Homo sapiens: one gene and its partners. The gene in region 1 interacts genetically with each later gene. Each region holds a gene or a part of one and is shown in the gene's direction. Other genes may lie near its edges.

Region 1 (3,500 bases):
GCAATGGCGTGATCTCCACTCACTGCAACCTCTGCCTCCTGGATTTAAGCAATTCTCCTGCCTCAGCCTCCCGAGTAGCTGAGATTACAGGCACACGCCACCATGCCTGGATAATTTTTGTATTTTTTTTTTTTAGCAGAGACGGGGTTTCACCATGTTGACTAGGCTGGTCTCGAACTCCTGACCTTGTGATCTGCCTGCCTTGGTCTCCCAAAGTGCCAGGATTACAGGTGTGAGCCACCATGCCCGGCCTAGCAGTAAACTTTTATTACCTCTCACAGTGTCTGTGGGTCAGAAGTTTGGGAGCGGCTTAGCTGGTTGGTCTTGGTTTGGGGATCTCTCATAAGGCTGTAGTCAACATGTTGGCCAGCGCCCCAGTTATCGGAAGTTTTGATGGGTTTGGAGGACCCCCCTCTAAAGTGTCCCATACACAGGAAGCGAGTTGGCTGTGACTTTTGGAAAAAGGCCTTAGTTCGCTGCCGCGTGGGCTTCTTTATGAAACTGTTTGAATGTCTTCACAACATGATAGACAGCTTCCCCAAAGCGAGTCATCCAAGAGAGCAAAGCAGAAACTGCACGTTCTCTGAACTCACTTCTGAAGTCACATTTCACCCCTTTTTGCAGTCTCTGGATGGGTGCATAGGTCACCCCTCCCAGCACAGGCGGAAGCTATGCAGAGGCATGAATTCCAGGAAGCAAGGATCACTGGTGTCTGATTGGAGACTGGCTGCGGGTCTGATACTCCTTTCCCCAGCATAGCCCAGTCACAGTTTTCAACATTTCACATCTCTTGGTCTCTGGCATAGCAGATTCTGCCGAGTTATCCCTGGTTTTGCAAATTCTGACAGTGTCGCTGTAAGGTAGGGATGTCTCACTGTTGTAACCAGGAAAGAGTCTAGTTGGTGGTGAGTGTGGCAGGGACCAGTGTGGTCTCCAGAGACTCCTATGCCTTGTGTAGTGGCTCACGCCTGTAATCCCAACACTTTGGGAGGTCAAGATGGGAGGATTATTTGAGGCCAGGAGTTAGAGACCAGGCTGGGCAACGTAGCAAGACGCTGTCTCTACAAAAAATAAAATAGGCTTTGCGTGGTGGCTCATGCCTGTAATCCAAGCGCTTTGGGAGGCCGAGGCAGGTGGATCACCTGAGGTCAGGAGTTTGAGACCAGCGTGGCCAACACGGCGAAACCCCATCTCTACTGGAAATACTAAAAATTAGCTGGGCAGGGTGGCAGGTGCCTGTAATCCCAGCTACTTGGGAGGCTGAGGCAGGAGAATTGCTTGAACCCTGGAGCCTGGAGGCGGAGGCTGCAGTGAGCTGAGATCGTGCCGTTGTACTCCAGCCTGGGCGACGGAGTGAGACCCTGTCTCAAAAAAAAAAAAAAAAAGGCTAAAGCAGAGCATTTTGTTCTGTTTTTGGAGTCAGGGTCTTCCTCTGTCACCTAGGCTGGAGGTGCAGTGTTGCGATCTTGGCTTGCTGCAGCCTCAACTTCCTGGACTCAAGCAATCCTCCTGTCTCAGCCTTGAGCCACCCTGCCTGGCCCCTAAGGCACAGTTTTAAAAATAAGTAAATAGCGAGGCGCGGTGGCTCACACCTGTAATTCCAGCACTTTGGGAGGCCGAGCTGGGCAGATCACTTGAGGCCAGTAATTCGAGACCAGCCTGGCCAACATGGCAAAACCTCGTCCCTACTAAAAATACAAAAAAATTAGCTAGGCATGCTGGTGGCGCAGGCTTGTAGTCCCAGCTACTCAGGAGACTGAGGCATGAGAATTGTTAGAACCCAGAAAGTGGAGACTCTGTCTCAAAAAAAAAATTAAAAATAAATAGCTGGGTGCGGTGGCTCAAGCCAGTAATCCCAGCACTTTGGGAGGCTGAGGCGGGCAGATCACAGGGTCAGGAGATCGAGACCATCCTGGCTAACACGGTGAAACCCTGTCTCTACTAAAAATACAAAAAACTAGCTGGGTGTGGTGGCGGGCGCCTGTAGTCCCAGCTACTCAGGAGGCTGAGGCAGGAGAATGACGTGAACCTGGGAGGCAGAGATTGCAGGGAGCCGAGATCATGCCACTGCACTCCAGCCTGGGCAACAGAGCAAGGCTTCATCTCAAAAAAAAAAAAAAAAAAAAAAAAAAAAAAAAAAAATATATATATATATATATATATGGTAAATTAAAAACAAAAAAATAGAGGCACCTGCGAGGGCCTGAAAGCTGGGACTGAGGTACCAGGACACGGCAGTAATGATGTTTTTGAGCAGCGGATTATGCCTGGGGGTTTGGGCTGATGGCATCTTCGCCCCTGTGCCAGCGTGTCCGGAGCGGTGACTGGAAGGGGTACACAGGCAAGACCATCACGGACGTCATCAACATTGGCATTGGCGGCTCCGACCTGGTGAGGAGAAAACTGCCTTGGGGTAGGGTGGGAGTCTGGGCACTGTTGGTCCCACTCAGGTCTTTACTTTCTCCAGGGATGGGACCTGGCTGTCTCCACTTTTCGTGGGCCCTGAATTCTTATTCTCTGATGCTATGTCTCCCCGCAGGGACCCCTCATGGTGACTGAAGCCCTTAAGCCATACTCTTCAGGAGGTCCCCGCGTCTGGTATGTCTCCAACATTGATGGAACTCACATTGCCAAAACCCTGGCCCAGCTGAACCCCGAGTCCTCCCTGTTCATCATTGCCTCCAAGGTATGAGTGCCGAAAACTGCCCGGCCCCTGGCCCTGTGTGTGTTGGGGTGGGGAGGGACAGCTGTCTTGCCATCCCCCTGGCCATTGGTCCCTTTTGGTGGGTTCCGAGTGAACCATGGTTTGTGGATCAGGTCAGTACAGCTGCCCTAGACTGTTTCCATGCCTAGCAGCAAATAAGGTTGACTGATGAAATCCTGAACACATCAGTTTGAACCTTTGTGTCCTGACCACACCCGCTCGCCTTGCGGCATCTCTGCTCAGCCTGGGACTGCTCGCCACTTTCTTACAAACCTGTCCTTTATGCCTGCTCCTTTTCTTGTTGTTGTTTTTGAGACAGAGTCTGGCTCTGTCACCCAGGCTGGAGTGTAGTGGCGTGATCTCGGCTCACTGCAATCTCCGTCTCCCAGGTTTCAAGCGATTCTCCTGCCTCAGCCTCCCAAGTAGCTGGGACTAGGCACACACCACCACGCCTGGCTAATTTTATTATTTATTTATTTATTATTATTATTTTTTAGTAGAGATGGGCTTTTGCCATGTTGGCCATGCTGGTCTTGAACTCCTGACCTCAGGTGATGCACCCCCCCTTGGCCTCCCAAAGTGCTGGGATTACAGTCTTGAGCCGCCATGCCCAGCCATGCTTGCTCCTTTCTGATCCCAGAGCCATGCCCTGATAATAGAGGGGTTTTGTTTGTTTTTATTTATGTTCTATTTACTCACATGAATGTACATAAAATATGAAGAATTCCATCTGAATTCTGAGATACCTTCCAGCCTGGGCCGAAGAGAGCCTCAGGTTGACTGCAGCCCCTCAGGG
Region 2 (3,983 bases), on another chromosome or scaffold:
GTACAGATTTTGAGAAATTTAAAAAAAAATTTTTTTTTGAGACAGAGTCTCCCTCTGTCACCCAGGCTGGAATGCAGTGGCATGATCTCAGCCCATTACAACCTCCGCCTCCCGGGTTCAAGCGATTCTCCTGCCTCAGCCTCCCGAGTAGCTGGGATTACAGGAGCCCGCCACCACGCCCGGCTAATTTTTTGTATTTTTAGTAGAGACAGGGTTTCACCATGTTGGTCAGGCTGGTCTTGAACTCCTGACCTCAAGAGATCCGCCCGCCTTGGCCTCCCAAAGTGCTGGGATTACAGGCGTGAGCCACCGAACCGGGCTGAGAAATAAAATCTGAGAATAAGTGTAATGTAACCCACTAGTGTCCTCTACATTTGAAAGTCAACTTTTCAATAATCCCTGAAGAACCACCTGAAAGGCATTGCTTCGCTAGGGCGATGATGCCCGATCGCCATTTTACTCATCCAATCCTACTGGTTTACCCAGGCCCCATAAGCCTCACCAGATCCCTCTTGCCTCTGCACATCTCCAATCTCCATAAAGACCTTTGATCGGATCTATCATTGTACCTATCATAGGTCTGATGCCCCTATCAAGACTTGGAGTTTTCCTAAACGCCCATGTCTTTCACATCACATCTCTCAACTCATAGCATTGCCGTACCCTGAGAAATAAATGAAGCTGGTACAAATTTTCTCTGAAAACTTGGAAGCCTGGCGCTGAACTCAACAACTTTAGCTTAGTCCGCAAAAATGGACTTAGCTAATACTGTGTTAGGCATAATGGTGCTGTTTTAACGGCTTTGACATCCAATTATTCTTTCACCAAGCCATTAACCAGAGCCAAGTTTGCCCTAGGCTGGGCAAAGGAATGCTGTGAAGTGAAACCTGGGCTGTAACCGCCTCCGAGGCCGGCTCACACCCAGGGACCCTCCCAAGCGGTTCCTGCGCCCCCTCGTGGCCTCCCTCCTGCAGTTCGCTGCACAAGCGCAGGGCCCGGAGCGGGGACGGGCGGGCCCTCCAGGCCCTCGACACACCCAATTGGCCAGGCCTCGTTGCGTGTGGGCGGGGCCGCGGCTGGAGCGGAGGAGCCCCCCAGAAGACCGCCTTCAGGGGGCGTGGCCTGGACTGTGGAGGGGGCGGACCGTGGGGAAGCTGCTTCCGGGTGAGCCCCCCCCGCTCTTACGCGGTCTGTGGGAGACCGGAGCGGGAGACAGCGGTGACAGGAGCAGCGGCCGGGAGCCCTTAGGGAGGCAGGTGAGCGGGGGCTGGATGCGGGGAGATAGCGGGCCTGGAGGGCGGCTCCAGGGCGAGGCGGGGACTGTGGCACCAAGAGTCCTGCGTCCCCAGATTGTGCTGTGCGCCTGAAGCCCTGGCGGTGCAGCCGTGCACGGAGTCCCGTGGAGCGTTTGTTTGGGCTGGATTATCCCGCTGCAGCCGAGGTTGGGGGCCCGGGTTCGGGGCTCCGCACCTCTTCTCTGGGGTTCACCCTCTCGGATACCGCCTGGGCAGACTCCATCGATGCAGAACCCGAGGTGCGGGTGGTGGTTGGTGGGGGGGTAGGGAGGTGAAAACAATAACAGCCGTTTTGTACTAAGCGTTGCGTGCATTGACCATTCATTTATTTTATTTATTTATTTATTTTTGAGACGGAGTTTCGCTCTTGTTGCCCAGGCTGGAGTGCAATGGCGCGATCTCAGCTCACTGCAACCTCCGCCTCCCGGGTTCAAGCGATTCTCCTGCCTCAGCCTGCCAACTAGCTGGGATTACAGGCGTGTGCCACCACGCCTGCTAATTTTTGTATTTTTAGTAGAGATGGGGTTTCTCCCTGTTGGTCAGGCTAGTCTCGAACTCCCGAGCTCAGGTGATTCGCCCACCTCGGCCTCCCAAAGTGCTGGGATTACAGGCGTGAGCCACCACGCCCGGCCTGACCCATTCATTTCTTACAACAACCCATTGAGGTCGGTTCTAGTCCCCATTTACTAAACGAAGAAACTGAGGTCACACAACTAGAAAGCTACAGAACTAGGATTTGTACCCACATCTATCAGACTCCAGAGCCCACATACTTAACCATCCTGCTACCAACAGCAGCCAGGCCCAGAGTCTGGCTCACCCAAAGCTCTCCACAAGCCCAACCTGCTGGGAAACAGATTTGATATCTATCCTTAAAGTATGGAGGTGTCATGGTGGGCACTGAGGACTGGGCTGCTGGAGACCTTCCCCCAGATCTGCCGCTGACCCACTGCGTGATCCTGGGCCTGTGTCTACCCCTCTCTGAGCCCAGTTTCACCCTTGTTTCAGTGATACAATCAGCAAACTTTAAGAAGACTCTTAGCCAAGATATTCTAGGATTCTGGGAATGGCAGCTTCTCCTACGTCTAAATGGCTAACCCCAGAGGCGATCAGGCTCTTCAAAGCCCCAGGGCAAGGCTGGGGTCTCATTCTTCTCTTTAATCCCTGTGTCTAGCACTTCAGCAGGCCCATAGTAGATATTCAAGAAATGTGGGTTGGCTGAATAAACACTTCATCTCTTTTCAGAACTGCATGACAGCTGCTCTCCTGGGCCTTTGTGGGGCTTTGGATTTCTCAGTTCTGGCCACCTTCTATCTAGCTGGCTCTCCTGACTGCCTCCTCCCTGGCCAGTGGCAGAGCCTGCCAGGGCTGGCAGCAGGTCCTAAGCCTCTGTGCGAAGACCCACAGCCTCTGGAATCCTCAGCATAGTACAACTTGCAGGGGTGGGGGGTGGCACATGAAGCTCATAGCCCCTCCTGGTAGCAGTGCTCAGGGCCCAACTTCAGTTACTCCCAGTTTGGGGATGTTGCCTTCCATGGGAGGAGATACTTTCATATTAAATCTGAAACACTTCTTATCCTTCACTGTCCCCTCTTCCATGAAACCACCCTTGACTCAGAGACACAGTCCCTCTGACAGCACCTGGTCCACCCCTCTACTCTGGCAGCCCGGTGGTGATTATTTTGTTTTTCCTCCACCACATAACCTGCTGGAAGGCAGGGACTCCACTTCAGAAATCTTGGAAAACCCTGTGGCCCACAAGGGTTTGAGCTCATATTCCCATCTGGTGAGGTGCAGAAGGCACAGAGCTGTGCCAGGACATCTCGTTCCAACCCAGCCCCACTCCTAATAGTAATAAAAGTAGCTACATGTTTACTGTGCAGCTACTTGGTGCCAGACACCTACCTTATCCCTATCAATAATCTCCACAGCCTTGCAAGTTAGAGATATCATGCCTATTTTGTAGATTATGAAATGAACACTGAAAGGTCAATTACTTTGCCCAAAATTACACAGCAGAGCATAGACCAAACCTGGGACTGTCTGACCCTGAAACATGGATCTTTCTGCACCGCCCTATACTCTGCGTCCCAGCAAAGCTAACCTGTCTGATGTGGTTGGGCAGAGGTGCTGGACCTCCTGGCGGCTCGCTCCTGTCTTCAGTGTGGTAATGTCACAGGCATTTAAATTGTGGTTTGCAAGCTCGCTTGATTTGGGAGAAGTGCCCTCCCAGTCTGTGAAATTCTCCCAAACTCTAAGGGCCTTTTTGCAAAGCAAAACCCACCCTGCATTTGGCTCTGCCAATATGTGATTCAGGGGGTGTTTTCCCACTCACAGAATGGAGTGGGAAACTCCACTTATTAAGTACCTCTTACAATGGAATGACTCTATGGTGTAGGTATCAGGGCACTGAAATAGAAGCCAGGAGCTGCAGGGTCAGTTTATAGCTCTGTATGTCACTCACTGTGATCTCCAAAAGTCCCGTTGCCTCTTTATACCCCATTTTCCACATTAAAGTGTAAGGGATTAAACAGGATTGGCAATTTTCAAGCTTTTAATATTTTCAGCACTGACAGCCGTTTCTCAAATCAAATCTGTCTCTGAATCTTAAAATTCAAAAACAGATCAAAGTGGACTGCTGTAGTGAGACTGTTCCCTTTACTCTAACCCTGCCCCGGTCTCAGGCTC
Region 3 (3,500 bases), on another chromosome or scaffold:
TAAGTAATAAATATTTTAGGCTTTGTGGGTCCTGTAGTCTCTGTTGCAACCACTCAACTTGGCCATGGTAGCACAAAAGCAGCTAAAGACAATATGTAAATGATGGGTGTAGCTGTGTTCCAGTAAAACTTATAAAAAGTCCGTGGGCTGGATTTGGTCCAAGGGCTACAGATTGCACACCCCTGGTCTAGCCCAAGCATCTGTGCATGGTGGCTGGCTTCCCAAAAGTGGAAGCTGCTAAGCTGCCTTTTTTTTTTTTTTTTTTTTTTTTGAGAGGGAGTCTCACTGTGTTGCCTAGGCTGGAGTGCGGTGGTGTGATCTCGGCTCACTGCAACCTCCATCTCCCGGGTGCAGGCAATTCTCATGCCTCAACCTCCCAGGTAGCTGGGATTACGGGTGCCTACCACCACGCCTGGCTAATTTTTGTATTTTGGTAGAGACAGGGTTTCACCATGTTGGCCAGGCTGGTCTCAAACTCCTGACCTCAAGTGATCCACCCGTCTTGGCCTCCCAAAGTGCTGGGATTACAGATGTGAGCCACCGTGTCTGGCCGCTTGACAAGCTTCTTAAAGGCACTGCCCTGAACTGGCACAGTGTCACTTGTGTCACATTCTTTTGGTTGAAGAGAGTCTCAGAGATGGCACAGATTCAAAGGCAGGAGAAATAGACTCCAGCGCTTAAAGTAAGGAGTAGCATGTGCCTACAGAATTGGAGGAACTGTTGGAGGCCATCTTTGAAGAGAGACCACCACTATCCATGGCTTGGCACGTGGGAATCACTGCTCTATACCAGGGTTGCAGACTCATGTCTTTGGGGGCCAGGCAGTGAGTATAAATGAGTCAAGTGGGCCAGTTGGAAGATGGAGTCAGACCTGCAGTGAACTCCCAAACACATCTGCTACCGGGAGGGGCAGCATTACTCAGCTCCAGCTCAGCGTCATCAGGCAGGAAGGCGAGGCAGTGTTGCCGGATGTGCCAGTGTTTCAAAAGAAGCCAGAGACTCCATTTTTATTTTTTTGTATGGAATCTCCTGATTTTGAAATATTGGCAGATAATTCAAATTATCTTAAACACTACAGGCCAAACAAAACATATCTGTGGGCTAGAGACAGTCTGCCAGTTTGTAACTATTTCTCCAGATCATGAGTAAATTTGGCTTTACGATGGTCACTCAGTTCTTATTACTCTAGGTTGTTCAAATGAATTAAAAAAGCTGAAATTATATGAATAAACCCCTGGGCACACATGAAAGAAGTGAAAAACCCATTGTTTCCTATTGTAGAAACATGGAAGCATGTCAGAGCCAGAGGATCCAGAGGAAATATTCTCACTAGCCTCAGACCCTCAGGAGTGAGGGAGCTTTTCTTGTTAATGGCCACGCTTGTGCAGTTTTCCTTCCCAGGTGCTGGTGAAAGAAACCCACAGTCTTGGAATCATGGAAGTGATACCATAATGACTGTCAGTTGACGTTGCTTTAAAGAATGAAGCCACAGAATTGTGCTGTTAGCATGTCGTGAGCAGTTAGTTGAGTTGGTGGCTTGTAATTTACTCTGTGTGGATGTTATTGATCAAAGCTTTTCATTATTGACAGTGTCTCCATCTGCTGTTTGCTGTTTTTAGGGGAAACCACCCTTTATGACTCAACAGCAGATGTCTCCTCTTTCCCGAGAAGGGATATTAGATGCCCTCTTTGTTCTCTTTGAAGAATGCAGTCAGCCTGCTCTGATGAAGATTAAGCACGTGAGCAACTTTGTCCGGAAGTGTAAGTTTGGGGAACTTTTTCTTGAAAACTGTCCTGAGAGAGAAAAACTAGAAAGATGCTTGAGGCAGAATGAGTTACTGGTTGATAGTAGTCGGTAAGAACTCTGGTTCTATATAAGACAGATCCAGGTTCAAATTCAGGCTGCACCTCTTATAGCTGGGAGACCAGGTAAGTTGGGCTTCTTGGTTGCAAGCGACAAACTTAATTCAAAGACTGAATTTAGGCCAGGTGCAATGGCTCATACCTATAATCTCAGCCCTTTGGGAAGCTGAGGTGGGTGAATCGCTTGAGCCCAGGAGTTCAAGACCAGCTTGGGCAACATGGTGAAACCCCATCTCTACAAAAAATACAAAAATTAGCTGGGTATGGTGGCTTGCACCCGTGGTCCCAGCTGCTGAGGAGGCTGAGGTGGGAGGATCACTGGAGCCCGGGAGGTTGAGGCTCAATGAGCTGTGATTGTGCCATTGCACTCCAGTCTGGGTGACAGAGTGAGACCCTGTGTGAATAAAAGAGTGAATTTATTGGCTCATGAAACTGAGAAATCCAGGAATGAGTTAAGTTTTAGCTTTAGGCATAGCTAGTTCCAGAGACCTCAATAATATCCCGTGGCCCTGTCCTTATACTCACTCAGGGCTGACTTTCTATTAGGCAGAGTAGGCACGGTGCTTAGGATCTGTGATATTTAATTTTAATGAATTTAATTACTTTTAATTAACTGAATTAAATTTTAATTTGTTTTAAAATTATAGGAAAAATGAATATAATAATGTATAATGATTCTGGATTACATTCATCTTTATACTAATGTAGTCATAAAATATAATTTTTGTTTTTTTTGGAGACAGAGTCTTGCCCTATTACCCAGGCTGGATTGCAGTGGTATATCATGGCTCACTGCAGTTTCAACCTTCTAGGCTCAAGCAATCCTTCCACCCCAGTGGCTGGGACTACAGGCTCACACTACCACGCCCAGCTAATTTTTGCTTTTTTCTCTGTAGAGATAGGGTCTTACTATGTTACCCAGGCTGGTTTCAAACTCCAGGCTTGAAGCAGTCTTCCTGCCTCAGCCTCCCAAAGCTTTGGGATTACAGGTGTGAGCCACCATGCCTGGCCCCATAAAATATAATTTTTGAATTCTTTTTTGTTTTTAATGGAGGAAGGGGCTGAGGAAGGCAAAAGTACCTAGGGCCTATGAAGTCATATATTGGCCTTGCCTTCACCCTGTTTCTGACTTTGCTTGACTTCCATGTGATGAGGCAGTTGGCTGTTAGTGTCCCAGTTTCATACTCTTACATTAGTGTTTTTCAACCAGTGGGTGATTTGACGTTTTCGGTTGTCAGAGCTAGTTGGGGGTGGTGGTGTGTGAGTTTGGGGGGAAGGGTCCTACTGTCAGTTAATGGGTGAGGCCAGAGATGCCACCAAACACCTTACAGTGCACAAAGCAGCCCCCATAACACAGAATTATGTAGCCCACAATGCCAACAGTGCTGAATTTGAGAAACCCCACCTTGTACAACATTGCTGTGCAACCAACCACCCTAAATATTACTGACTTAAAACAATAGTCACTGTGGCTGGGCGCGGTGGCTCATGCGTGTAAGCCCAGCGCTTTGGGAGGCTGAGGCGGCGGATCACTTGAGGTCAGGAGTTCCAGACCAGCCTGGCCAACATGGTGAAACCTTGTCTCTACTAAAAATACAAGAATTAGCTGAATGTGGCAGCGGGCGCCTGTAATCCCA
Region 4 (3,500 bases), about 14 Mb from region 1:
CCAGGCTGGTCTGAGCTGGTCTCAACTCAAGCAATCCACGCAGAGGTCCTGCTAGTCCTTTTTTAAAAAATATATTCATAGTGGAAGGAAATATAATGTAAATAATTATAATTACATAATTATAATGTGTAATTTATTTTCTTCCATTATAAATATTAAAGATATAGAAAATTTATAATTTTTTATATCTTTAATATTTATAATGGAAGGAAAGGCTCAGTTCCAATTAGAAGTTTACAAGAATAAAGTCGTAATTTCTTTCCTGTCAAATTTCATAGACCACTTGAGTTCTGCTCTTGGACTCCTGGGTTTTGTGGACCCCAGATTAAGAACCCTTTCTTTTCTTTTTCTTTTTCTTTCTTTTTCTTTCTTTTTTTTTTTTTTTGAGACAGAGTGTTACTCTGTTGCCCAGGCTAGAGTGCATGATCTCACTGCAACCTCCACTTCCTGGGTTCAAGTGATTCTCCTGCCTCAGCCTCCCCACTAGCTGGGATTACAGGTGTGCACCACCATACCTGGCTAATTTTTGTATTTTTAGTAGAGATGAGGTTTCACCATGCTGGCCAGGCTGGTCTCGAACTCCTGACCTCAGGCGATCCACCCGCTTCGGCCTCCCAAAATGCTGGGATTATGGGCAGCAGCCACCACGCCCGGCCTAGGAACCCTTTCATTAGAGTTACTCTAAACTGTGGAAGCCCCAGTGACTGTTATTGATTTCATTAAATAACAGACTTTTTAAAAAAGTATTTAATTTTTAAAAATATATTGTGAAGGGGTAACGTATTCCAATTGTTCTGCCTGCAAAAGCATGCATATTAAAAAATCTCCCTCCAGCGTCTGTCCCTCCTGAGGCGACAGCATTACCAGTTTTTTGTCTTCCAACTGAGATGTTCTGTACATATACAAGATATGTGGATACATTTATAGTCTTTCTTTTGTTTTTGTTTTTTGAGATGGAGTTTCACTCTTGTCCAGGCTGGAGTGCAGTAGCACAATCTCGGGTCACTGCAGCCTCTACCTCCCGGGTTCAAGCGATTCTCCTGCCTCAGCCTCCAGAGTAGCTGGGAATACAGGCGCGTGCCACCGCACCTGGCTAATTTTTGTATTTTTAGTAGAGACAGGGTTTTGCCATGTTAGCCAGGCTGGTCTTGAACTCCTGACCTCAAGTGATCCACCCACCTCGGCCTCCCAAAGTGCTGGGATGACAGGCGTGAGCTACTGTGCCTGACCTATAGCCTTTCTCTTTTACACAGTTCAGTAGCACACACTCTGTGATATTCTGCCCTTTGTTTGAAATAACAGCATACCTTAGAAACTGCCCAAGAGCTAATTTATGTAGACCAGCGGGTACAATTTTATAAGCTTCCACAGTTGTTTCACGGAATTATGTCATCACCTTAAAACAATTTTTCACTAACCTTTAAACTTAACTCCAAAAAAACCCATTTCAGGTCCTCAGTCTATTCCTCATATTAGATGAAAAACAGTCTTCTTATGGTAAAGGAGGCCTCTTATCTTTTTCTCTGATTTGGAGCTTTTATTCTGCACCAGTAAATCTCACCAGCAAATTATTTTGGTTCATAAAAACAGGAGTTTCTTTTTGAAGGGGAAATTCATGTTTCTGTTTTTTTTTTTCTTTCTTTCTTAAAGAAAGGGTTTTATGTGTGTTTAGATCTCTGCACAACCAATCACCTCAACAAGTGTTTGGATTTCTGTTCCAGGAGCAGCTGACAGACGAAGAAAAGTGCTGGACAGGAAGGGAGAATTCTGACGCCAACATGCAGCGAAGTATCATGTGAGCACCCTCCCTTGCCCCTGAGTCTTTCCTTCTCCAAGTCCTCTGTTTCTTTCTCTAAATCTGTACTTAAAAAAACAAACAAACAAACAAAAACTCTTACGTTAGATTTTGAGTTGGAATTTCCAGGAGTCAAGTAGTATGGAAAATGAGCCGTGGGATATGGAAGACAGTGTATTGAACAACAGTTTTTAGTTGCAAGGAGCAGAAACCCTAACGCAGTGGTTCTCAGTCAGCAGCAATTTTGCTCCCCAGGGAACATCTGGCAGCGTCTGGAGATTTTTTTTTTTTGAGTTGGAGTCTTGCTCTGTCACCCAGGCTGGAGTACAGTGGCGCAATCTCGGCTCACTGCAACCTCCGCCTCATGAGTTCAAGTGATTCTCCTGCCTCAGCCTCCTGAGTAGCTGGGATTATAGGCACGTGCCACCACGCCTGGCTAATTTTTGTATTTTTAGTAGAGACGGGGTTTCACCACGTTGGTCAGGCTGGTCTCAAACTCCTGACCTCGTGATCCGCCCACCTCGGCCTCCCAGAGTGCTGGGATTTCAGGCGTGAGCCACGGCGCCCGGCCAGTGTCTGGAGATATTTTTGGTTGTTACAACCTAGGGACAGAGGGTTTGCCATTGGCATCTAGTGGCTAAAAGCCAGGCATGCTGCTAAACATCCTTCAATTCATAGGACAGCCCCCCCAACAACACAGAACCATCAGGCCCAACATGTCAATAGTGTCTAGGTTGAGAAACCTCGTGTTAATGCAGTCCGGCTTCAGGAAGACAAGAAAGGGCATGACTTGACTTATATCATTGAAACCTGCTGGAGTAAACAGCCTCAGGCTTGGTTCGATCCAGTTGCCAAAACTTCCTCCCTGGGAATCTGTCTCTCTCCATTGTTCAGCTCTACTGTCCTTGAGGTTGTCCTCACCCTCAGGCGGGCTCTCCCCTCTTAGCGGTCCCCTTGGAAAGAGGGTGTTAGAGCCCAGTTTCACTGGCCCAGCCTGGGCCACATACCTATCCCTGAACCAGCCACAGGGATGCAGCCTGGATCACGTGTCCACCCCTGGTCACAGGCAAAAGGGCCAGCCCACTCAAATCGTGTGTACTGAGAGAATGTGGGGTAAGAAGCATCCCAAGAGGAAAACGGAGGGGCTGTTACCAGGAGGAAAAAATGGATGGTAGAGAGACCCAGACAAGGGCATCCATCCCAGAAACCTGGGCGGTAGTGGCTTACACAAATGCTGGGTTCCGTTTTTCTCCCGTGATGAGGAATCTGGGGATTGTCTCTCCAGGGCTGATGGTGCCTTCGATTGCTTTCTGTCCACTGGCTTTTGCATGATTTTTCCTTTTCTTTTTGAAGATTAAATAAACCTCTTATTCTGGAATAATTTTAGAGGTACAGGAAAGTTGCAAAGACAGTACAGAGAGGTCCTGTATACCCTTGGCCAGTTTCCATTGTCAATATCATACATTACTATGATCCGTTTCTCACCACTGAGATACTAATGTCAGTACATTACTCTTAACTGAACTCCATACTTTATTATTCAGATTTCACCAGATTTTTTTTTTAATGTTCACGCCTTCCAACATTTTTTTTTTTTTTTTTTTTGAGACAGAGTCTTGCTCTGTCGCCCAGGCTGGAGTGCAGTGGCGCGATCTTGGCTCACTGTAAGCTCTGCCTCCCAGGTTCAGGCCATTCCCCTGCCTCA

Evidence for each region. Genes that interact genetically often act in the same process or in processes that back each other up.
Region 2: changes in GPI (region 1) and ALAD together harm fitness more than expected from each alone (negative genetic interaction), as found in Homo sapiens cells (one large-scale study listed by BioGRID).
Region 3: changes in GPI (region 1) and CIT together harm fitness more than expected from each alone (negative genetic interaction), as found in Homo sapiens cells (one large-scale study listed by BioGRID).
Region 4: changes in GPI (region 1) and LIG1 together harm fitness less than expected from each alone (positive genetic interaction), as found in Homo sapiens cells (one large-scale study listed by BioGRID).

The regions. Positions count from the first base shown.
Region 1 is NC_000019.10:34,375,196-34,378,695, forward strand, and holds part of GPI (glucose-6-phosphate isomerase), read left to right. Parts: intron 1-2,307; coding exon 2,308-2,391; intron 2,392-2,539; coding exon 2,540-2,686; intron 2,687-3,500. UniProt on the Homo sapiens protein: In the cytoplasm, catalyzes the conversion of glucose-6-phosphate to fructose-6-phosphate, the second step in glycolysis, and the reverse reaction during gluconeogenesis.
Region 2 is NC_000009.12:113,398,485-113,402,467, reverse strand, and holds the start of ALAD (delta-aminolevulinic acid dehydratase), read left to right. Parts: upstream 1-1,183; 5' UTR 1,184-1,256; exon of another isoform or gene 1,257-3,983.
Region 3 is NC_000012.12:119,867,321-119,870,820, reverse strand, and holds part of CIT (citron Rho-interacting kinase), read left to right. Parts: intron 1-1,619; coding exon 1,620-1,761; intron 1,762-3,500. UniProt on the Homo sapiens protein: Plays a role in cytokinesis. Required for KIF14 localization to the central spindle and midbody. Putative RHO/RAC effector that binds to the GTP-bound forms of RHO and RAC1. It probably binds p21 with a tighter specificity in vivo.
Region 4 is NC_000019.10:48,163,845-48,167,344, reverse strand, and holds part of LIG1 (DNA ligase 1), read left to right. Parts: intron 1-1,721; 5' UTR 1,722-1,778; coding exon 1,779-1,795; intron 1,796-3,500.